Homo sapiens: one gene and its partners. The protein of the gene in region 1 interacts with the protein of each later gene in a pairwise test. Each region holds a gene or a part of one and is shown in the gene's direction. Other genes may lie near its edges. The genes, in order: TRAF3IP3, MOB4, NDEL1, EBAG9, RIC3, CCDC138 and WAC.

Region 1 (3,500 bases):
ATCTAGAATTAAATGAGAAGAATGTTTTTGAACCTCAATCTTACTTTCGAGAAACACCACCAGATAGAGAATAACACACCCATTCCTACTTACCCATTTCTGGCTTGGCCATTTACACTTTAGTCTCTAATTCACTAGATCACTGTCTCCATCCTTCTTCCTCTCCCTTTCTCCCAGTATCCTTCTCTTTGCACCCTGGAGGAATCCCAGCACTAACCAGTTTGTCAGCTCCAGGGGAACCTTGAGAATACCTGACACTGTAGGGGAAGGCCCTTGGTAAAGACTCACATCACCCAGACAGCCCTTTACGCATCCTAATCTTTGAACAGATGAGTTAGATGTTATAATGAAGTCTTACAAAATTATTTTCATTCCATGGGTAACTTTTTTCTGTTTTTTCTAGCAACCCCTGGAAGAATGTAAAAGCTCTTTTACTTGGCTCTTCTGTAACACCATTTTCCAGCATTAGTAATCTCTTGATTGGCCTAATCTTGGTTTATAAGAGATAGAAAGAAATCAGCTTTCACATTTGAGAAGTGATGGATACCTGACAGGTGGGAAGATATCAAATCAGAGAATGGGGTGAAACAGGCAGAATTCTCCCATCTGGAGTTAGAGAGAGAAGACAGTCCTGGCCACATTGATGGCGTCTTACAGGGGAAGAGAGTTTATGGAGTCTATAAGTTTCTTGGTCCACAACTTTCATTTTTTCAGTATAACTTGCTTTGTCAGGACTAAATAATGCCAACCAAGTTCACAGGAGACTAATATATAATCCAGAATGCCAGTCTATTCATTTTCAATAGGGAATAACACATAACCAGTGCCCAGCATGGATGGTCATTGGATGTCCAATAACTGGGACATCCCCTACATATGACCTCAACCAGGTTAATTCCTGGATCTGGTTTTTAATGAAAGTTCCAAAACTATAAGACCCACTCAAATTTAAATCCAAAATTTCAGACAATTCCAAAGCTAAATGGAAATGATTTCATATTGATCCCTAAATTGTTGTCATCTGGTCTACTGCTTACACAGTAGGTAATCCAGAATTGACAATAAAATCTGCCTGCCTTCTCCGAAATCACAGGGCATAAAGATGAAAGAAAGGGAGAAGGCAAGACCCCCAGTGAATTTGCAAAGCTGCGCTTGTGTCTCCTTAATCCTGCAGCCAGGAGGAATTTTATAATGCAAATGTATTAATTTTAAAACATGAAGTTCATTAGGCATTGTAAAGAAGCTACAATGATTTTTTTTTAAAGCAGCAGCAGTATGCTCCCTCCCTGAAGGAGTTTACAATCCAGTATGAAAGACAGATGAGTCAATAGAGTAGAATAATAGAGGCATGCAGGGGATACTATGTGAACACCATGAACCCTAAGAAAAGCTACCTAATCCATAAGACATTGTGGGATGGGGGTAGTTGGTCAATTTATCAGAACTGATGATACTGGACTGAATCTTGAGTATTAGTAGAAGTTAACTGGCTGTAGGCAGAAGAAGCTACATGGGTAAAGGCAGAGCCCCAAAAAACAGAGTGCTGGGGGATCTGCAAACATCTCAGCTTAGGTGGAAGTAGCATGGGATGAAAGTCTAGGCGTGTAAGAGGAGCCATGACAAGGAGTTTGGATGTGATTCTTAGTATGCTGAGAATCCATGGAGAGATTTATACAGGAAGTGGCAAGATCAGATTTGCATTTTAGAAAGAACCCTCTAAATGCAGAACTGAAAAGGGACTGAAGGGAGGCAAGATTTGAAGAAAGGGAGGCTGTTGCATTAATCCACATAACACTACTACTAGAGCCTGAACTAAGGAAGCAGCAGTAGGGATAGAGAGGAGACAGATATGAGCTGTTAAGGAAATTGTCAAGGCTCAATGACCAACTGATTAGAGGGGGAGGAAGTGAGAGAGAAAATGAAGATTGACTCCCTGGTTTAGGGTTTGGAAAAGCCTGGATGGATGATGATTCTGGTCACTGAGATAGGAACCCCAAGAAAAAAGAACATGTTTAGAAAGATGAGTCCTGTTTAGACATCTTGGATTCCAAGAGCTTGCAGAAGGCCTCAGATATAATGCCCAGGAAGCCTAGGGCACTGTTTATTATGCCCTCCACTCATCTCTCATTGCCTGAGGGACTCTTCTTGCTAGCTCTACCCTAAAAGAAATGGCTCACTAGATTACTGGTATCTCTGCCTGGGGGAAGAACCAACTTCTTTTCATTTCTGTATCCCAGCTCAGGATTTGGCACACAGAAGCTCAATGTGTATTTGTTGAATTGCATCAAATTTACAGAAATACTCCCCTTGGGGAATGAAAAAAGTACTACTGGAGATGGAAGACCAGAAAAACAGCTATGAGCAGAAGGCCAAGGAGTCACTGCAGAAAGTGCTGGAGGAGAAAATGAATGCAGAGCAGCAACTACAGAGCACACAGGTATGGGGATGCCACATAGACATGGGGCTGGGGACTCCAGGCAGCTTGGGGAACAAGGGGAGCCAGCTGCACAACTCCCTGGAGCCCTCTCCTCTCTGATCTCCCTCAGCGATCCCTGGCCCTGGCAGAGCAGAAGTGTGAAGAGTGGAGGAGCCAGTATGAGGCTCTGAAGGAGGACTGGAGGACCCTTGGGACCCAGCACAGGGAGCTGGAGAGCCAACTCCACGTGCTTCAGTCCAAACTGCAGGTACCAGGCACTGGGGGTGGGGAGGGAAGACAGGGTATGGGGAGGAGGGATGGTGATGAAAGAAGCTGTTCTGGATTAGGGACTCCAAAGGCAGCTGACAGCATCTGGCTTTCAGTTCCTCAGTCACCACTACTTTGTACCAAATTCACTGTTTTGGCTCTGAAATCTAATTTTGAGTTTAGCAAGGATGTCTGCATTGCTCATGCAAATGAACTAAGCGTTCATTGGAATGACACCATCACCACCCAAATGAAAAGAACTGGCTGGAATATTCATCAGCCTACTAATGTCATCTCCCAACCCACTCTCCAAACTCCATCCCAAAAAAGCATCCAGTTCAGAATTGCCCACTGTTGGCAAAGAAAGAATGTCACTAATTTATTTACAGGTGAGTATTAACACTTTCTGCCAATGTGTATTTTAAGCAATTACATTTAGCAATTACAATTAGATTCTTGGCATCCTCAAGGGTTCCATCATCTTCAATCTGTCCTAAGCCTCAGTTTCCCCATCTCTAAAATGAGGATAATAGTACCTACATCATAAGGTGGTTCTGAGTATTAAGTAAGATGATCCATGTAAAGCACTTAGCACAATGCCTGGCACACAAAAACACTCAGTAAATATTAGCTATTATTTTGCATAGATTTATTTACCTGGTTTGGAATTTTGAGGATCCACCTCAAAAGCTGATCTTTGTAATTTTCCTGAAGCAGGGCTCAGAACAGCCCACTTGATAAGAGACAGAGTATGTGAGTCTTATCAAAGGAGTGAACCCAGCTGGTCACTCTGCGTGGTATCCACAGCTCAACCTTT
Region 2 (3,500 bases), on another chromosome or scaffold:
GTGAAGAATAGATATGACTTTTTATTTATGTATTTGCATTTTCAGGCAGTTCTGCCTTGAGCTAAATGGACTTGCTGTCAAACTTCAGGTAATATTTTCTTTAAGTCAAAGTTATAATTGAAAGTTCTGATTTTTTTTTCTCTGTTTTTATAACTTAATGTGCTTACAAAAACGTATCCACATTTCTAACTTTCTTCTAGAATTTATTATGGAAATATAGTAACCTAAATGATAAGCTTTTTCATTATTATTTTACATATTAAGAAATATAATTATTTTTAACAGAGTGAATGCCATCCAGATACTTGCACTCAAATGACAGCAACTGAACAATGGATTTTTCTTTGTGCAGCTCATAAAACTCCAAAAGAGGTGAGGATTTATGAAATAGAGTAACTAATAAAATTATTATAGCCTAAATCTCTCTCAAGACAATGTTAGACAAGTTTTTAGGGTTTTTAGTTCACTGTTCATTTTGCTATTTCATTTTGAGTTGCTTGTTGTGAAGTTGTTACTGCAGTGCTATTTTAGGATTTCTTATGATAAGCATCATTTTTCATAATTGGGCAATTACATGGGCTAGAACTCACTTCATGATCCACTGGCTATTACGGATTAACATCTGTCACATTGTGCTGATATCTACTGTGTAATGATTGAGATACGCCTGTTTAGGTTTTTGTTCAGATTATTTCTTTTGATAGGAAGAACTATTGATTACTCTGATGCCTAGTTTAAGTAGAAATGTTACTTTTGAGCTTTTAAATATTCATGTTGTTTTTCTCCTTATTTAGTTTTTGTCAAGGTAAGACTATAGGCAGTAGCAGTTTTTTGTTTTGCTCTTTTTTTTTTTTGAGATGGATTCTTACTCCGTTGTCCAGGCTGGAGTGCAGTGGTATGATCTCGGTTCGCTGCAACCTCTGTCTCCGGATTCAGGAGATTCTCATGCATCAACCTCCCAAGTGGCTGAGATTACAGGCATGCGCTATCATGCCGGGCTAATTTTTATATTTTTAGTAGAGATGGGGTTTTGCTATATTGGCAAGCCTGGTCTCAAACTCCTGACCTCAAGTAATCTGCCCACCTCAGTCTCCCAAAGTGCTGGGATTACAGGTGTGAACCACTGTGCCTGGCCTACTGTACTTTTTCTTATTTAAAAAATTTCTTCATATCATCTGATACCCAGTATACTTTTCCTTAGTTGTCTCCAAAATGGTCTTTACATCTGGGTTGTTTATGCATTGCTTTTCCCTTAATCTGTATTCCCATTTAATCTGTTATAATTACTTTTTACTTGACACTGACTCACTGGGGATATTGGGTTAGGCCAATTCTGTAGAATCATAGACCTTGAAGTGGTCATTATATTGATAGACTTCTAAGGCTTGAAGACAAGTGAGGCCCTAGTTGCAAAATCAATATCTGATGTTTTTTGTTTCAAAAAGGACAAATGCTCCAAAATAAGGAGTATTTGATACCTAAGAGAATAGTACTTATTTGGAAGACTGGTTTCATTCAGGATGTCACATTTTTATGTTAATTAATTGAAGCAGTATTAAGATTGTATCTGTCGGCCGGGCGCGGTGGCTCACGCCTGTAATCCCAGCACTTTGGGAGGCCGAGGCGGGCGGATCACGAGGTCAGGAGATCGAGACCATCCCGGCTAAAACGGTGAAACCCCGTCTCTATTAAAAATACAAAAAATTAGCCGGGCGTAGTGGCGGGCGCCTGTAGTCCCAGCTACTTGGGAGGCTGAGGCAGGAGAATGGCGTGAACCCAGGAGGCGGAGCTTGCAGTGAGCCGAGATCCCGCCACTGCACTCCAGCCTGGGCGACAGAGCGAGACTCCGTCTCAAAAAAAATAAAAAATAAAAAAAATAAAAAGATTGTATCTGTCTACATCTGGGAAAATCCACATAGTGGTTTCATTGATAATTCACTGAAGTTGGCTACTTAACGTAGTGAATGATGTGATTATTGCAATTAGGAAACTGAATCAAGAAGGCTGAATCAAGGCTAGTTTTGTTTTGGCAAATAGTAATGATGTATTATTCTTTCTTTAGAGTGGAAGTGATATCCAGTTTGTGATGTGTTATGACTCTTAAATATACTGTCATTCTCATATCCACTTCTTTCTTGATTAATATTAAATGACAGGATAGTCATTAGCATTAAGACCTGTAAATTGAGTCTTAGAATTGCAGCATTGCTTGCTGAAGTCCAGATCTGTTGAACTGGCCATGTGTCAAGGGAGGGTGATAGTAGGATTTCCAAGTGGTAGTTATATTGAGTGGAGTTACTGTAAAAATACAAACAAAAGAACAATTTGAAAGGACACTTTCTGAACTGTTTTTGAATAACTGCTTAGTCAGGAAACTATAGGAACTGACAAACTAAGCTAAGAAAATTGCTCTCATGGATTAAAATCACTAGGGAGATTCTGAAGTGGGAGCAGCAGAATACTTAGCACCAATAATCATTTATTCAGTATCCTTGAGAATTAAAGAGAGGCATTCAGCATATAGAGTAAATTATACAAATAGTGCTTCTAGGCGACAAACATTATAACTTACTGTCTACAAGCCCTCACAGTCACATGCTGATTGTGATCACTTGCAGTAGCATTATGATTATATATTTGGAAAAATATAATACATAAAAATTTGTAAACACCATTACATAGTATTTTGTAACCTGCTATATTTTGCCATTTTTTGCTGTTATAACTGTTACAGAGTAGGAATAGTTACCTGAGAATTAACTGGGGGAAGGTGAAGGGAAGGCAGCTAAAAACAATGCAAAATGTCATCCAAATTAAAAATTCAGAAACCAGTTAAAGGTCTAAAGATACAGTGATGTGGTAACCCATGAGCCCCATGTAGCTGTGTAGCACTTGAAATGTGGGTAGTCAAAATTGAAATATGCTGTAAACACAAAATAAATACTGGATTTCGAAGACAGTAACGCCTGTAATCCCAGCACTTTGGGAGGCCGAGGCAGGTGGGTCACCTGAGGTCAGGAGTTCGAGACCAGCCTAGCCAACATGGTGAAACCCCATCTCTACTAAAAATACAAAAAATTAGCTGAGTGTGATGGGTGTGCACATGTAGTCCCAGCTACTAGGGAGGCTGAGGTGGGAGAATCACCTGAGCCCAAGGACTCAAGGTTGAAGTAAGCAAAGATCACACCACTACACTCCAGCCTATGTGACAGAGAGAGACCATGTCTCAAAAAAAGATTCAGAAATGGCCAGTAAGCACATGAAAAGATGCTCAACATTAGTTATTAAGGCACATCTCAAAACCACAGACAGTTGGTGCGAGGGTTGTGCGTTATTGTTATGCTGATTAACATTGTCTCCTCCACAACCATGCTTGATAAGGGAAAAAAAAAAACCACCGTGAGAATGGAGAAACAAAATGTAGCATGGACATACAATGAAATATTATAAAACCATGAAAGGGAATGAAGTTCTGATACATGCTACAACACAGATGAACC
Region 3 (3,500 bases), on another chromosome or scaffold:
CTCCCAAAATGTTGGGATTATGGGTGTGAGCCACTGTGCCTGGCTTCTTAATCATTTTAAAGTGTACAGTCCAGTAGTGTTAAGTATAGTCAAATTGTTGTGTAAACAAATTTTTAGAACTTTTTCATCTTGCAAAACTGAAACTATACCTATTGAATAGTGACTACCCATTTTCCCTTCCCTTCAGCCCCTGGCAACCACAGTTCTATTTTCTATGAGTTCAGCTACTTTAGATACCTCATATAAGGGAGATTATACAGTATTTGTGACTGGTTTATTGCATTTAGCATAATGTCCTCAAGGTTTATCCATGTGTAGTATGTGACAAAATTTCCTTCTTTTTTAAGGCTGAATGATACTCCATTGTATGTATTCATTTTCTTTATCTGTTCATCTGTGGATGGACATCGAGTTGCTCCCATCTCTTGCTATTGCGAATGATACCGCTGTGAACATGGGTGTCCAAATATCTCTTTGAGATCCTGTTTTGAATTCTTTTGGATACATACCCAAAAGGGGGATGACTTTGTTCCTTTTTTAACACAAGCAAATATTCTGTAAGTTAAATTGCATAATTGGAAAAGATAACATTAATTTTGGGTTAAAAACTCGACATTGGCTGGGTGTGGCGGCTCACGCCTGTAATTCTAGCACTTTGGGAGGCTGAGGCGGGTGGATCATTTGAGGTTAGGAGTTCGAGACCAGCCTGACCAACATGGTGAAACCCCATCTCTACTAAAAATTCAAAAAAAAAAATTAGCTGGGTGTGGTGGCGGGCACCTGTAATCCCAGCTACTTGGGAGGCTGAGGCAGGAGAATCGCTTGAACCCAGGAGGTGGAGGTTGCAGTGAGCCGAGATTGCGTCACTGCACTCTAGCCTGGGCGACAGAGTGAGACTCCGTCTCAAAAAAAAAAAAAAACGCTCAATATTTGAAAGCATGAGAAAAATTTAAACCGTTCTGAATACTTCTTTTCTAAAAGTAAATATTTCATAGTGATAATAGTTAATGCCAGCCCATTTAAAATTACAAAAATGCACTTAGTTGATTTTGCAATAACCCCAAAACTACATCATTTGAAAATAAAAGCAAATAAGTTGGTGAAGAATATTTACTTTTGTGTGAATTGTACTGTGGACTCTGCACTGTTTCTTTTTGCATATAAGCATAAGTAACTTCTCTCAGGTTATAGCATTTTTAAATTCTAAAAGATCATTTAGACAGTAGTTTTGCCATTTTTATTCCCCTAGAAATGAAAGTTATACTTAAATAGGAAATTCATTTTTGAGAAATAGTAATTTAGGAAGAAGACCTTTATGACATTTTAGATGTCACTTTGCTTGATATATTTGCTCCCTCTAGTGAGTATTCCTGCCCTTGTTTGCAATATTTTACAGATTTAAGGCAAGAACTAGCAGTTCGGGAAAGACAACAGGAAGTAACTAGAAAGTCGGCTCCTAGCTCTCCAACTCTAGACTGTGAAAAGATGGACTCCGCCGTCCAAGCATCACTTTCTTTGCCAGCTACCCCTGTTGGCAAAGGAACGGAGAACACTTTTCCTTCACCGAAAGGTTTGTAATGTCTTTTCTTTTTGAGGCGATGTGTTAGATGATCAGCTTACGGGGGTTTGTTGCTGAAGGCGGTTGCTAAGGTTTAAAGAGTAATTTTAGTTTAAAAGTTGGTGAAGTCTAGTGCTATGTGAAATAGAAGAAGGAATTGTTTTCCTAGGCCACTAATATATAGGAAACAGTGAAATGATGGTTACATTTAAGATGAGATTTTTAAAAGTTAAAGGTTTTTAAGGAAAGTTTATTTTTTGATGATAGCAATAGATTTTGTGATTACAGCCGTATGTTTAGGTAGAAAATTTTAAAAACACAGAAAAAGAAAATAAAAATCATGTTATCTTACCACTTACAGGCACCCACCATTAACATTTTGAGTTTTTTTTTCTATTGTGTGCTTGTGTGTGTTTGTGCACATCTCTTTGTCACATGCAAATTTGGGGATCATATTTAAACACAGTTTTATTTCTTCCTTTTGCCACTTTCCATATCATGGGAGACCTGAGGCCTTTCTACATAGAATGTACAGAGAATCATTAAGTTATCTTTCAGACTCATGTAAGACCGGCTTGGATGGACATGCCCATTCTGTTACATGCTTCAGGAGCTGCCATTTTCAAAAGCATTGTTCGGAGTAATTGATGATTGGCACATACAGAATACTCACATTGCCATGAACCAGTGTGTTTTTTTAAAATCCGGATAAGCAGAAAAACCACCTAGTAGCCACTAGATAGAACCTTAAAATGGAATCTTAAAGCTCTCAATTGAGATTTGTTTAGATTTTGCAGCTCGTAGTTCATATTTCTGCTACTCTCATCCCCCCTTGCTTTTTTTTTCCACCCTATATTGAAGCTGTCATCCCACCCTTTTTAAAATATAGGGTTTTATCTTTTAGAATGCTATGTGGGCAACTAGTACAGTGAGCTCTCTCTGTCTGTGCTACTCAATAGTCACCAGCCCATGTGGCTATTTAAATTTATATTAAAATGAAATAAAATATAAAATTCAGTTTCTTTGTCACATTAACCACATTTCAAGTGCTCAGTAACCCTTGAGTAGGTAATTCAACTTGTCTTTGCCTTGTTACGAGATGATATCAGATAAGGTATGTGAAGGTGCTGTATGGTTGTAAGGTGTTACTAATTGCGCTAGGTTTACTGCTGAGGACAAAGGGCAGGCAATAGATTATTAGCAGTCATCAGGAGCCCTCACGGTCAGTTTTTCAGAAGAGCTGCTTGTATATTTGAAGATTTCACAATTACACCTGAGGACTAACAAAGTTTTACTTTTATGTTACTGATTAGAATTATGCAGATCTGAAAATCCTTTAATTGAAGACGAATCAGAATAGTGAAAAGCCTCAGGTGCGGTGACACCCACAGGTGGTGCACATTTTTTTTTAATAGCCCGTTAGAGTTTTCATTCAGGGACTTGGGGAGTCAAAAGGACATGGAGCCTGCTGTGGCACGGCATGAGGTGTGCCAACCCTATGGCAGTAATATTTGCTTAATAGATATGTTTTTAGGCTGGAACCAATAGCATGAATTTTCACTGGCTAACCTAAAAGCTGCTGTGTACTAGATCACTGCAATTTCATTACAAGAAAGCACAGAGTTGTGAGCAGCAGCAGGTGGTCAGAGAAATCGGTAAGATCTTAGAGCTGATCTTTCTGAAGTGGTCTGTCTTTAATTGTATTTTACCTTTTACAATGTTTGTTTCTCTTTCTTTCTTTCTTTCTCTTTCTTTCTTTTTCTTTCTTCCTTTCTTTCTTTTCTTTTCTTTTTCTTCTCTTTTTTTTTTTTTTTTTTGACAGAGTTTTGCTTTTTTTGCCCAGGCTAGAGTGCAATGGTGCGATCTTGGCTCATTGCAACTTCCGCCTCCTGGGTTCAAGTGATTCTCCTGCCTTGGCCTCCCAAGTAGCTGGGATTACAGG
Region 4 (3,500 bases), on another chromosome or scaffold:
GATAGAAGTTAATCTGGAGTTTTACCAATCCTAACCTTTTATGAGATTGTAAATTACCTTAGATACTAAGATCAAGGTCTCATTGTACACATGAAAGATAGAGATACAATGTTATTTAAAAATATAAACATCAGAGAGATTACCATTAAAATGAGAGATTAACCCTAATGGTAGATTATTTTAAAGTGAGTTATGAATTGTTTTCTTCATAGAGTGTATTTTCATTCAAAGTATGACTTAATTTTAAACGGTTTGACTTAAATGAAACTTTTTAAAGGAAAAATTTATGAAACAAGTAGACAGCTGAGGTTCTCAACCTTGGGAGCATATCAGAATCAGCTTTGGAGGTTTTTTAAAAGCACAAATGTCCAGACCCCTCCCTACCTAAGCTTTAAGCATGCTTTGATTGATTGATTATATTATCTGTTGTTGTGTAACAACTCCAAATTCAGTGACTTAAAATAATTACAAATATTAATGTAACACAGTTTCTGTGGATTGGGAATCCAGGTGACTAAACTGGGTGGTTCTAACTCAGAATTTCTCATGAGTTTGCAGACAAGTCATTGGGTTGGGGCTACAATCATCTGAAGGCTTGATTGTGGTCGAAGGATTCATTTCAAAGACAGCTCACTTCTACACCTGACAAATTAATGCTATTTGTTTGCACAAAGCCTCAGTTCCTTGCTGTGCACCTCTCCAAGGAGCTGCTTGAATTTCTTTATGATGTAACTCCTGATTTTCCCAGTAAGTTATAAGACGGTGAGAGCACTTGCTCATGGGTGAGGGTGACACCACAATGCCTTTTTGTGATGTGGTTTTATAAGTGATACACTGTCACTTCCATGTTATTTCATTAGAAGCCACTAAATCCAGCCCACATGCAAGCCTCCACCTCTTGAAGGAAGGAATGTCAAAGAATTTGTGGACATATTTTTAAATTACATCTGTCTGTCAATCTATGTATTTTATTTGTTTGTTTAAACTGCACAGTTGCTTCTGAGGTCCCTCTTCCCAGGGGACCCATGTATATGTATGTTTTTAATTCATTGAGTAAAAACACTGTTTTTACTAAAGCCAGGCCCTGTGGCATTAAAGGGTCTTTGCCTCAGAAAAATGCATTCTAGTAGGGGAGACATGATATTAAATGAATGATCACACACGTCAATATAATTACAAACTTTGATAATTCCTATGCAGTTACACGATGCTATGAACACATAACACCATAAATACTTAGCTGAATAACATAGCATTATAATGTTTTTTATTTTATATATCTCAAAATTAAATTTTATTCATAAATGTTTGATCCATATTGGTGAAATGCTTTAATCCCACCCACTGAATTAGCAATATTTGCCACCTAAATATAATTATAATACTATCATAGCTCATTGTAAAGTTTTAAATATACAACTACTTACAGAGTTGAGAAGGGGTAAATAGGGTAGATGGAGAATGTCTCCACTGCTATTTCCACGTATTTTCCTCCCAAGCAGACAGAATAAAGGGGCATTGCATAGGAGAGGATGGTAACCTATTGGACTTTGTTTTCTATACCAAAAATATCTTACCATTCATTCTACAAATTAGATTCTTCTTTTAAACTACACATTTTATTCTTTTCTAGAATTCATCATTCGTATTGTTGTGAGAGTTCTTTTATACCAAAGATAAATGTCATGTTTTATACTTTTTTAGTTTGTTAATTGGTTTGGATATTTTTGTTGGGCAGGTGTATTTAGTTTTTATGTAGACAAATCTATCAATGGTTTCCCCCTTTTCCTTTTTACTAAGGCCATCTCTACTAAAGGATCAGATACCACCCTTTTTAATGGTCTCTATAGTTTTACTTTTTAAAAAAAATCTAAATATTTTATGTACTCTAACAGTCAAATACTTTAGTGGAAGAATAGATAATATGAATGGGAAATTTACAAATAAGAAATAGACATAACCTAATTTGAAGAAAAGCTTGATCTTATTAGTGCTCAAAGTAGGCCCAGTGAGGTGTTACATGCCTGTAATCTCAGCACTTTGGGAGGCCAAGGCGGGCAGGTCACTTGAGCTCAGGAATTCGAGACCAGCCTAGGCAACATGGCGAAATCCCCCCTCTACAAAAATTAAAAAGTTAGCTGGGTGTGGTGGTGCGTGCCTGTAGTCCTCGCTACTTGGGAGGGACTGGGGTAAGAGGATTGCTTGAACCCAAGAGGTCGAGGCTGCCGTGAGCTGTGATCACACCACTACACTCCAGCCTAGGTGACAGAGTGAGACCTTGTCTCAAACAAAACAAAGTAAAATAACAAGATACAATTTTAAATCTTGTCAAATTAGTAAAGATAGAAAAGAAAGCCAGCCGAGTGCAGTGGCTCACACTTGTAATCCCAGCAATTTGGGAAATTGAGGCAGGAGGATCACTTGAGTTCAGGAGTTCAAGACCAACCTGAGCAACATAGCTAGACCTCATCTCTAAAAAAATGTAAAAAACAATCAGCCAGGTGTGGTGGCATGTGCCTATAGTCCCAGCTACTAGGGCAGCCGAGGTGGGAGGATCCCTTGAGCCCGGGAGTTTGAAGCTGCAGTGAACCATGATCACACCATGCACTCCAGCCTGGGCAACAAAGTGAAACGCTGATTCCTAAAAAAAAAAAGGGAGAAGAAAAGGCAGGATTTCTACCTACTGCGGTCAAGAGGATAACTTGGTACTTTTCAAGGCTGTCATTTGCACTTTGTTTCAGTAGCTTTAAAAATCCTCCTTTCAGAAATGTATATTAAATAATTAGAAATATTTTAAGAATTTTTAACAGAGTATGGTATTACATATATTCTCAGGAGAAGAAAACTCAAAACATTCTATTTCATTTTTAGGGGTAAGTATTTAAAACAATATGATATTAAATAAATGTGTTCACAGATTGGTACCAGTTATTTTACACACAGTCACTTCCACACCTACCTAAACAGTCCAGCATGACCATTTTCATTGGTTATTGAAAGAAAACAGTGAACTTTTAGAGGTCTGGCTTGGGAAATAGAGGTAGGGACCAGTAGATGATACCAGGTAAGAAAGACTGGGAAAAGGAAGCATGACCTAGAAGTATTTCATTAAAGATAAATTTTGCATGATTTGTCATTTTTGCCTAGGATTGAGACAGTAAGTGCCAATAAAAAATCTCCAGTAAGTTACATATGCTTAAATGAAGAATGACTGTGCTAGTTTTTGAACTTCAGCTCGCAGTTCTTCTCAGCACAGATTAGTCCAGTCAAGGATTTCTAATTCAGTCTGGGATCAGTCAGTTTCTTGTCACTCTATCCCCAGCTCCCTCATCTTACTGAGGAGAGAAAGAAACAAAAGACATGTTCTGTTCTTGTTCCTTCCAAAATAAAGTACAGCAAAGAAGAGAATTTAAGAGAGTATCCCATGAAACATAAAGAAGAAAGCTGGCCTTGCCTAGGACTGTTGAACACTGAAAGTCATACATCAGTTCTAGGCAAGC
Region 5 (3,500 bases), on another chromosome or scaffold:
ATCCATTCATGGATGTTCAGATTGATGCTATAGTGTGGCTATTGTGAATAATGCTGCAGTGAACATGGGAGTGCAGATATCTTTTTGACATACTGATTTCTTATCTTTTGGATATATATCCAGTAGTGGGATTACTGGATCATATGATAGTTCTATTTTTAATTTGTTGAGGAGCCAGTATACTGTTTTCCATAGTGACTGTACTAGTTTACATTCCCAGCAATAGTATATAAGGGTTCCCTTTTCTCTACATCCTTGCTGACACTTATTATTGCCTTTTGTCTTTTTGATAATAGCCATTCTAACAGATGTGGTGATATTGTGGTTTAAATTTTCATTTCTTGAATGTTTAATGATGTTGAGCACTTTCTCATATGCCTGTTGACTATTTTTCTGTCTTCTCTTGAGAAGTGTCTATTTATATCCTTTGCCCATTTTTAAATTGGGTTTTCTTTTGCTGTGGAGTTGAGTTCCTTATATATTTTGCATATTAACCCATTATCAAATATATGGTTTGCAAATATTTTCTCCCATTACATAGATTGTCTCTTTACTGTTGTTTCCTTTGCTGTACAGAAACTTTCAGTAATCCCATTTGTCTATTTTCACTTTTGTTGCATGGGCTTTTGGTGTCATATCCAAAAATATCATTGTCCAGACCAATGTCATGGAGCTTTTTCCCTAGGTTTTCTTCTAGTAGTTTTACAGCTTCAGGTCTTATGTTTAAGTCTTCAGTGCATTTTGAGTTGATTTTTGTAAATGTGAGGTGTGAGATGAGGGTCTAATTTCACTGTTTTGCATGTGGATATCTAGTTTCCCCACACCATTTATTGAAGAGATTGTCCTTTGACCTTTTTGTGTTTGTCCTTTGACCTGTGTGTGTGTGTGTTTTATTTTTTGGCATCTTTGTTTAAAAAAATTGACCATAAATATGTGGATTTATTTCTGGGCTTTTATTCTGTTCCATCAGTCTGTGTGTCTGTTTTTATGCCAGTAACATACTGTTTTGATTACTATAGCTTTGTAGTAGATTTGGGAATCAGGTACTGTGATGCCTCTGGCTTTGTTCTTTTTGTTCACAATTGCTTTGGCCATTTGGGGTCTTTTGTGGTTCCATATGAATTTTAGAATTGTTTCTTCTATTTCTGTGAAAATTGTCATTGAAATTTTGATAGGGATTGTATTAAATCTGTAGATTGCTTTGTATAGTATGGACATTATAGCAGTATCAATTCTTCCAATCCATAAACGGGACATCTTTTCATTTTATTTGTGTCTTCTTCAATTTCTTTCATCAATGTTTTATAGTTTTCATTTCAGCCTCCCAAGTAGCTGGGATTACAGGCATGCACCACCATGCCGAGCTAATTTTGTATTTTTAGTAGAGGTGGAGTTTCACCATGTTGGTCAGGCTGGTCTCGAACTCCTGACCTCAGGTGATCCACCTGTCACAGCCTCCCAAAGTGCTGGGATTACAGGCGTTAGCCACCGCACCTAGCCTATACTTTCATATATATATATATGTATATTTGTGTTACTGAATAGTGTCCCTTGCTCTCTACTTGAAGAACACCCTTGAGCATTTTTTATAAGATAGATCTTGTGGGGATAAGCTCCTTCAGCTTTTGTCTGGCAGAGTCTTTGTTTTTTCCTCATTTCTGAAGGAGAGCTTTGCCAACTACAATATTCTTGGTTGACCTTTTTTTTTTTTGTTTTTGTTTTTGTTTTCCGTAAGCATTTTGAATATATTATCCCACTCTTTTCTGGCCTTTAAGGTTTCTGCTGATAAATCTGTTAGAACTCCCTTATAATGTGATGTACTTTTTTTCTTTTGCTGCTTCCAGCATCCTCTCTGTCTTTGATTTTTGATAGTTTGATTATAATACTTCTTGATATAGTCTTACTTGAGTTCAGTCTGATTGGAGACTTTTGACCTTCTTGTACCCAGATATTTATAACTTTCCCCAGATTTGTATAGTTTTCTGCTATTATTTCTTTAAGCTTTCTATCCCTTTGTGTCCGTCTCCTCCTTCTTGAACTCCAGTTCCCATAAATCCCATAAGCTTGCTTTCTTTTCATTCTTTTTTTCTCATCCAACTGTATATTGTCAAATAATCTGTCTTTAGATTCAAAGGTTCATTCTTTTGCTCAATCAGTTCTGCTGTTGATACTCTCTATTGCATTTTTCATTTCAATTCTCGTATTTTTCAGCTGTAGAATTTCTGTTTGATTTTTTTAATATAATTTCAATCTCTCGTAAATTTTTTGTTTTAGTTATTTATTGTTTTCCTGGTTTCCTTTAATTGTTTCTCTGTATTTTCTTGAAGTTCGCTGAGTTTCCTTAAAACAGTTATCTTGAATTCTTTGTCAGGCAGTTCATGTGTCTTCTTTTTCTTTCTTTCTTTCTTTTTTTTTTTTTGAGATGGAGTTTTGTTCTTGTTGCCCAGGCTGGAGTGCAATGGCTTGATCTTGGCTCACTGGAACCTCTGCCTCCTGGGTTCAAGCGATTCTTCTGCCTCAGCCTCCTGAGTAGCTGGAATTACAGGCGCCTGCCACCACGCCCGGCTAATTTTTTGTATTTTTAGTAGAGATAGGATTTTACCATGTTGGCCAGGTTGGTTTTGAACTCCTAACCTCAGGTGATCCATTTGTCTTGGCCTCCTAAAGTGTGTGAGATTACAAGCGTGAGCCATCACGCCCGGCCGTATCTTCATTTCTTTAGAGTCTGTTCCTGGTGCTTTATTTTGTTCATTGGTGGCAACATGTTTCCTTGATTGTTCTTGATCCTCATGGCTATGCATTGGTATCTGTGCATTTGAAGAAGCAGGGACTTTTGCTGGTGAATGGTTTTTGCATTCTGGCTTTGTCCGGAAAAGCCATTCACCAGTCAGCCTGCCCAGAGATTCTGGGTAGGCCATTTGGTGTGATCTGCAGGTAGACTTGCTGGTAGAGTCCTTAGGCAGGGTGGCCTGGTGTTGAGTCCGTGGGGTTGGGGTTGAAGCCTGGATCCACTGGGGTGTACCTGTTGATTGGATCCTCAGGCATGGACCTGGTGCTTGTATCTTGTGCAGAGAGGCTATCCCAAAGCCTAGGTCCACAAGGGCTGACCTGGGGCTGGACTGGGCCTTGAGCCTGGGTCTTCAGAGATTGGCCAGGTGCTAGGATGAACCTGGTGCCCGGGTCCACTGAAATGGGCCTGGAGGCTGAGTCTGATGGATGTGTCTGAAGGCTAGGTTCATTAGGGCTGGCTTGGGTCCTGGGGCCACAGGCCTCAGCCTAGAACCTAGGTCCATAGGGGCAGTCCTGGGGTTCTGAGGGCCGGCCCAATGCTGGGGTCTACTGGGTTGGGCTAGACCCAGGGTCTGCTGGATTGTGGGAATGCAGGGGCCAACCTGAAGGTGGGGGTGGTCATAGAGACTAGCCTGGCACTGGGCAGGCCTGGAGCCTGTGTCTGCAGGCTCCAATTTGGGTGCCATTGGGGTGCCAATTTGGCACTGGGC
Region 6 (3,308 bases), on another chromosome or scaffold:
CATAGTGTTTTCAGAAAGCTTACAAATTTGTGTTGGGCCACATTCAAAGCCATCCTGGGCCGCATGCAGCCCATGGGCTGCAGGTTGGACAAGCTTGATTTAGACCTTTCTGAATCCCATGCTACTTAAGCTTTGATTATTAAAAAAAAATTTCCATTATACAGATGTAGAAAATTAAGATTCATAAATACTAACGCTGATCTAAGACCACATATTTAGTGACAGACTAGAATTAGAGTTCTGATCTCAGAACATCTAGTTGTTTCTATAGCTCATTTCAGATAAATGAACTTTAAATGCTTCATATAAAAGTAAGAGCAGTTTTTAGCAACCAAGTAATAATATCAGAATAAATTCTTGCATACTGGTATTCTGTAATACCACAGGTGAAAATAAAAAGATAAAAGTATTTTGCAAATCCTTATTGATGTACTAAAGTGAATTTAGGGAATGAGAATGAAGCAAGCAGAAGAGATTTGAAATTACTTTGGTAACGGGATTTATTTTAGTAAACTCTTATGGACTGCCTACTGCCACTAATTTGGATTTTTTTATGAGAATCATGGGCTTTGTTTCCTCATCTTTCTCCTGACTCAGAAACTTGTATAACCAGTTACTAAACTATAAATAAGGACATCGATTTTAAGTTGTATTTTCCGTGATTCTTGGTATGCTGTAGTGTTTCCTTTGAGGCAAATCTGGACACCTTCTATCTCAACTCATTTGTATAACAGTAACATTTTTATTTTGATTTAGGTTCAGCTCTTCTCCTCCTGGCCTCATCCCCTCATCCATGATTCCCGTGGTAGAGAATTTAGATTTTACCAGGCTTCCATATGCTTGAGTAGTAAATGCAATGCATCTTGAAATTATTTGTAGATAGGGATTAAGAGATCCATATGTTCTATTTGGTAACATGCCTAGTAGAGGATTGTAATAAATTATTGTCAAATTATAACCTTATAATTTGACTGACCAAGTTACTAGCGCTGAATTTATCAATTTACTGTCTTCCTTTTCTTGCAGACTATACCGTGATTCTCTTGATTTCAGTAAATTCCTAGTAAGGCCTATTGCAGTTACCTTATGGTGCCATGAAGCTGCAATAACATTACTTAGATTTAATTCTTTTTTACTTCTTAATTCATGGGATTTTTTTTTTTTAAAGGTAGTCCCAAAGTGCAAGTATAACCTTGGGCCAAAATGTTTTACTATTCATGATGTGTTTGTAGCTTAGGTTCATTTTAGACTTAGATAAAAAAACAAAGCTTGAACAAGAAGACTGGGAATAGTTGATGCTCAAGCAGATCTTAAAATAAATCTTTAAGACCACAAAAGATGTAAATCCTTTTGTATTAGGATAGTACATAAGAGTTTGTATTAGGACAAACTCTCTCAAGAGAGTTTGTCAAATAACTAGACAAGGAAATAAGAAACAAAGCTAGACAAGGAAATAAGAAACAAAGCTAGACAAGGAAATAAGAAACACGTATACATATGTAACTAACCTGCACAATGTGCACATGTACCCTAAAACTTAAAGTATAATAAAAAAAAAAAAAAAAAGAAACAAATTCTTAATGATTGAAATGAAATTACTGACAGGTTATTAGAAAGAGGATGGTTGAACAAGTATTCTATAGCCAAGTCAAAAGATAAACCAATATTCTGCCACTTTAAAAAGGCCTGCTTACTCAAAATAGGATGATCAAATGTTTGTCTGTTTTGCTAGCTGTGAAAAAAAAAATTCTCACGCTCTCTAATAGTGAATAGGGTGCAATTTTCAGGGTTGTAAAATGGTTCCAGGCTGGGCACAGTGGTTCACATCTGTAGTCTCAGCACTTTGGGAGGCCAAGGAAGGAGGATCGCCTGAGCCCAGAAGTTCAAGACCAGCCTTAGCAACATAGTGACACCCTGTCTCTACAAAAAATAAACAAAATTAGCCAGGTTTGGTGATGTGCGCCTGTAGTCCTAGCTACTTGGGAGGCTGAGATGGGAGGATTGCTTGAGCTGGGGAGGTTGAGGCTGCAGTAAGCTGTGTTCATGCCACTGCACTCCACCTGGGTGCCAGAATAAGACCTTATCTCAAAAGAAAAAAAAGTTTTCTTTTTTCCCCAGTGGTTTTCTGCTTCAGGTTTATCTCATAAAACCTATTTTGTTTGTTTCAGCATTCTAATCTTTTAGTTGCCTATTTTCTCCACTGTTTTTAAAAACAGATGCCATTTCCTCATGTTTACACATAAATTATCTGTCAGTGTCATTGCAGATAAACTCTCTAAGTATGTGTAATTAAATAATGTATTCATTTTTTTTACAGGAGTAATAAGAAGCTCTTTGAACTTTTTACGATTCATCTGATGCTTCAAGAAATACAAAGGACAACAAACCCAGAGCATGCATTTCTCTGTATTAATCTAAATTCAACTCTGTTCAATCTGGGTTTAACAAAATGTAACTCCCTGGTCTCCAGTGCAAGCCCTTAGACTGGCTAATTTTTTAATATAGTATATGTGGTGCTTATTTATAAACATGTAGAAATTACCAAAGTAACTACAATTCTACCAAGTAAAGTTATCAGTAGCATCATTTATCATGAAAAATAAATAATTTTTTTGAACTGTAAAAATGAAATCTGTAGAAGGTATTGGAACTTTTGGAATGTTTCAGTTCAGGTAAGGTAATACTAATATACAAGATGGCGTTTCTAGAATGTATGACACTGAAGTGACTTTTTGTAAAAATATATTAGGAAAATTATTTCTTAAAATTATGTGATTATTTGGAATAAAATTGGTGCTTATGTGAGAACAGGGTTAAATAATACTGTCTTTCTATTTTCCTAATATATTAGAATCCTTGCTTTTGAAAGCAAAAATGTATATCTTTAAACTATCATCTTGATACCATAACTTTTCTATATACTGTATCCTAGATTAACAGATGTTGATTTTTTTTTTATTGTGCTCTTTGTGGGATAGAAAAAGTTTTTTATTATGCTGTTCACAGGTTTAAAAACTTTTGTTTTCAAAATAATTATTACTGGAGCATGTATATACAAGGCAAGACATTTTTTAAACATTGAAAGGTAAACAAAAATAATCGTCCTGTTACCAGAGATATCTCTTGGTATAGCCAAAGATGAGTAAAGTGGCCACAGGTCTGGGTGAAGTAAAGGTGGTAAAACTTGGGACTTAGGACAGGATACTGAGAAACATTGTTTTAAAGAGTCATAAAATCATATATGATCAGTGTATAATCTCAGTTTCAGGAGTTAGAAGAAATTTTCAAGAAACTATTGGGCCTCTTCA
Region 7 (3,500 bases), on another chromosome or scaffold:
GTGGCTCATGCCTGTAATTCCAGCACTTGCTGAGGCTGGTGGGCCACTTAAGCCCAGACCAGCCTGGGCAACATGGTGAACCCCATCTCTACTAAAAATACAAAAACTTAGCCAGGTGTGGTGGTGAACGCCTGTAGTTCCAGCTACTTGGGAGGCTGAGGTGGGAGAATAACTTAAGCCTGGAAGGTGAAGGCTATGGTAAGCTGTGATTGCACAACCCTGTCTCCAAAATAAATAGTTGAAGAAATAATAGTTAATGTCAATAATAAAATATCTTACACATCAAAAATACATGGTATTCCTAAATACTTTTTTTTTTTTTTTTTTTTTGAGATGGAGTTTTTGCTCTTGTTGCCCAGGCTGGAGTGCAGTGGTGCAATCCCGGCTCACTGCAACCTCTGCCTCCCAGGTTCAAGCGATTCTCCTGCCTCAGCCTCCCTAGTAGCTGGGATTACAGGCACCTGCCACTATGCCCAGCTAATTTTTTGTATTTTTAGTAGAGACAGGGTTTCACTATGTTGGGCAGGCTGCTCTTGAACTCCTAACCTTAGGCGATCCACCTGCCTCAGCCTCCCAAAGTGCTGGGTGTGAGCTACCATGTCCGGCCAATACTCCCTTTTTTGTATCCATTTTTAGATTTATTAGGGTGGATCTTGATATAGGATTTGAATGGCCAGCTTGTCTAAAAGGGCAATCACATGAAATAGCAGTTGTTTATCCAGTTAATTCCATATAACATACTGAACACTCACATATGAATAGGTTTCTGACATAATTGGAAGTTCCTGTGAACACTCGTTAAATTTTGTAGAGAGACTTTGTTCAGGTGATCATCTTAATTAGTGTAAAAGAAACTCTGTTGGTTTACCTTTATTGTAAACCCATTAAGTTTCTTTTTCTCTGCCTCAGATCATTTCAAATTTGGGACCCATTGTATTACTCCTATCTAGTAGGCTTTTATTTTGAGAGTTCTAGGTTGAAATATTCCAGTTTCTTGTGAGTTCTCTTCCTTGTCAGGTTGTTACTAATGCCACATAAGCCTCTTGTTTTTATATGAATGTATGAAATAATATGTTTTTAGTTCTTACAGCAGCTGTGACACAAGCCTCACTGCAGTCTATAATTCATAAGTTTCTTACTGCTGGACCATCTGCTTTCAACATAACGTCTCTGATTTCTCAAGCTGCTCAGCTCTCTACACAAGGTATTCTTACTCATCTTAGATATCTCTAGAATGGCATCTTGATTTTGTTTTGGAATTAATAGCCCTTTTTTGTATTTAGTTTTTTCTTTCATTTTTTTTTTTAGTTTTTTAAGAGATTAGCTACAATAATTTTGTTTTTTTTGTAACACTGGCATATACAGTAGTATTTTTATTTCCTTTCTTTTTAGATGAAGCAAGCTTTGACATTTGTCTTAAGGTATTGCCATCAAATCTGTAATTATTTAAGACAGTATTTAATTCAGACTTTGTTATTAATGAGTTTTTTTATGCCAAAGCTGAAAGTAAACTATGATGTGCCATATATCTTTGTGAAACATTGCATGTATTTGAAGAGTTGAAGTTTGGTTCAGATTGACGTTAGATGTTTTTTGACTGGATAATATGGAAATGCTCATTTTCTGCCTTGAATTAGATATCCCTCTTCATGAAGGTATCCAAATGGAGAGAGATACACATAGGAGCAAATGGGAAGTGAAAGGGTCACTTTGTCAGAAAGCTGATAAACAGCAGGAATGCCTTGTCTGGAATGGAAGTATAATGGTGCAAAGACTCTTGCAACCCTCTGGCTAGCCTCATGAGCAGGAGACTGCGTGGGATACCTGGGCCTAAATGTAGAATAAGAAAGAAGAAATAAGGATGGTGAGGAGGCCTTCCATGTGAGATTAGGTTCAGGCCTAGCTTCCTGTTCCAGCCACATAAAGGAGAGTGGGCCACACTGGGTGTGCTTACCTCTGAACACACAGCTCACTTAGTCAGTGTGGCCCAGTGAGAAGGTCAGATTCTGATTTATTCCAATAAGTGTTCTCTGGGTAATATGGGGGTGGGGGGGTTTAGAGTAATACAAATATCTTTGCCACATATATTACAAAGGACTTTAGTTTTTTGTTTTGTTTTGTTTTTCTTTAAAATTAATTGCTTCCCTCTTTTACAGCCCAGCCATCTAATCAGTCTCCGATGTCTTTAACATCTGATGCGTCATCCCCAAGATCATATGTTTCTCCAAGAATAAGCACACCTCAAACTAACACAGTCCCTATCAAACCTTTGATCAGTACTCCTCCTGTTTCATCACAGCCAAAGGTATGTCACCTTTGAGGGACATTCGGAAAAGAAACTACTTACTTTTGGAAAGTCAATAACATTTTAGAATCTGTTATAGAAAAAGCCCTCTGAGAATGAGGTGTAGTGGTGGAATGAATGACAGGTATGATAGTAGATGCAGCCTAGAATTTCTCAGTTCACTGAGGGATAGAGGGGGGCTTTGAATCTGTGCTACTTTAATAAACCATCTGAGTCTGTTCCCTAATGGTTTTGGGATTTGTCACATGGAGAGTGAGATAAAGAGGATATACTGAGTCTTAATATTTGTAGAATTTTCAAACTCCAAAAGACATGAATGAACATGTTTTCCAGTGACTTTTCCATATTTGTATTTCAAAAATGAGGCAGTTTCTGTGCTAAGAACTTAATGTATGTTTAGCTTTCACATCGTGAGAATCACTTGCTTTATTTAATAGATGAGAAAATCAAACTCTCAGTTAAGTTTTTGTGGTAGAGTCAGAATTTGAAACCTAGGTGTTTGTGAATACAGGGACCCATTTTACTAAGCTTATATTGCCTGTATTTGTCCCAGCAGAATCTTACATGGTTGGCTCCATAGGTGCAGTTAGAAAATTGCTGGTCTAAATGGTAAATGTAGGGGGAATTTCTTTTGAGTAGTTTTGAAACAGTGGGCTGTTTCAGACTTTTTAATGCCAAATAATTCTTTGTAAGATATTAAGCAGAAGCCCAAAAATAAAAATGCATTGAAATATAACTTGAAAGAGGTGGTTGGTCAGCTTTTAAGTCTTCCCGTTTGTTCATCCCTTCCCTACCTTGGCCATTGATCATTGCATGTTTTAGGGTCAATTTAGATTGATTTTTAAAATTCCAAGTTACAGTTGTTAGTTTATTATGCAGTTCCTTATCATTTGCCAGTATTTTAAGGAGGAAAGAATTAAAATGTGAGTTTTGGCAAAAGAGATGTTATTTTTGGAGCTTAGAACTTGTCTTCAGGGTGGCATTTTAAGAGTATAGTAAATAGTGGTTAAAAGTGAAATAAGTGGTAGTATTGGTTTTATAGTCACTTGTAAACTGAGCATTTCAACTCCTTTAAGAAGGCTGGGCGCGGTGGCTCACAGCTATAATTACAGCACTTAGGAGGCCAAGGCAGGAGGATTGAATTAGGCCCTGGGCAATATAGCAAGACCCCATCTCTACAAAAATAATTTGAAAA

What was found.
Region 2: the proteins of TRAF3IP3 (region 1) and MOB4 interact in binary tests that used the Homo sapiens proteins (3 or more experiments, as listed by UniProt).
Region 3: the proteins of TRAF3IP3 (region 1) and NDEL1 interact in binary tests that used the Homo sapiens proteins (3 or more experiments, as listed by UniProt).
Region 4: the proteins of TRAF3IP3 (region 1) and EBAG9 interact in binary tests that used the Homo sapiens proteins (3 or more experiments, as listed by UniProt).
Region 5: the proteins of TRAF3IP3 (region 1) and RIC3 interact in binary tests that used the Homo sapiens proteins (3 or more experiments, as listed by UniProt).
Region 6: the proteins of TRAF3IP3 (region 1) and CCDC138 interact in binary tests that used the Homo sapiens proteins (3 or more experiments, as listed by UniProt).
Region 7: the proteins of TRAF3IP3 (region 1) and WAC interact in binary tests that used the Homo sapiens proteins (3 or more experiments, as listed by UniProt).

The regions. Positions count from the first base shown.
Region 1 is NC_000001.11:209,773,053-209,776,552, forward strand, and holds part of TRAF3IP3 (TRAF3-interacting JNK-activating modulator), read left to right. Parts: intron 1-2,237; coding exon of another isoform or gene 2,238-2,296; coding exon 2,297-2,437; intron 2,438-2,521; coding exon of another isoform or gene 2,522-2,536; exon of another isoform or gene 2,537-2,546; coding exon 2,547-2,684; coding exon of another isoform or gene 2,685-3,072; intron 3,073-3,500. UniProt on the Homo sapiens protein: Adapter protein that plays essential roles in both innate and adaptive immunity. Plays a crucial role in the regulation of thymocyte development.
Region 2 is NC_000002.12:197,540,066-197,543,565, forward strand, and holds part of MOB4 (MOB-like protein phocein), read left to right. Parts: intron 1-45; coding exon 46-88; intron 89-285; coding exon 286-372; intron 373-3,500. Other genes in the region: HSPE1-MOB4 protein, read left to right, coding at 46-88, 286-372.
Region 3 is NC_000017.11:8,449,384-8,452,883, forward strand, and holds part of NDEL1 (nuclear distribution protein nudE-like 1), read left to right. Parts: intron 1-1,396; coding exon 1,397-1,570; intron 1,571-3,500. UniProt on the Homo sapiens protein: Required for organization of the cellular microtubule array and microtubule anchoring at the centrosome. May regulate microtubule organization at least in part by targeting the microtubule severing protein KATNA1 to the centrosome.
Region 4 is NC_000008.11:109,557,173-109,560,672, forward strand, and holds part of EBAG9 (receptor-binding cancer antigen expressed on SiSo cells), read left to right. Parts: intron 1-3,500. UniProt on the Homo sapiens protein: May participate in suppression of cell proliferation and induces apoptotic cell death through activation of interleukin-1-beta converting enzyme (ICE)-like proteases.
Region 5 is NC_000011.10:8,113,526-8,117,025, reverse strand, and holds part of RIC3 (protein RIC-3 isoform a precursor), read left to right. Parts: intron 1-3,500. UniProt on the Homo sapiens protein: Molecular chaperone which facilitates proper subunit assembly and surface trafficking of alpha-7 (CHRNA7) and alpha-8 (CHRNA8) nicotinic acetylcholine receptors.
Region 6 is NC_000002.12:108,873,771-108,877,078, forward strand, and holds the end of CCDC138 (coiled-coil domain-containing protein 138), read left to right. Parts: intron 1-2,317; coding exon 2,318-2,483; 3' UTR 2,484-2,808; downstream 2,809-3,308.
Region 7 is NC_000010.11:28,609,618-28,613,117, forward strand, and holds part of WAC (WW domain-containing adapter protein with coiled-coil), read left to right. Parts: intron 1-1,081; coding exon 1,082-1,204; intron 1,205-1,637; exon of another isoform or gene 1,638-1,864; intron 1,865-2,156; coding exon 2,157-2,305; intron 2,306-3,500.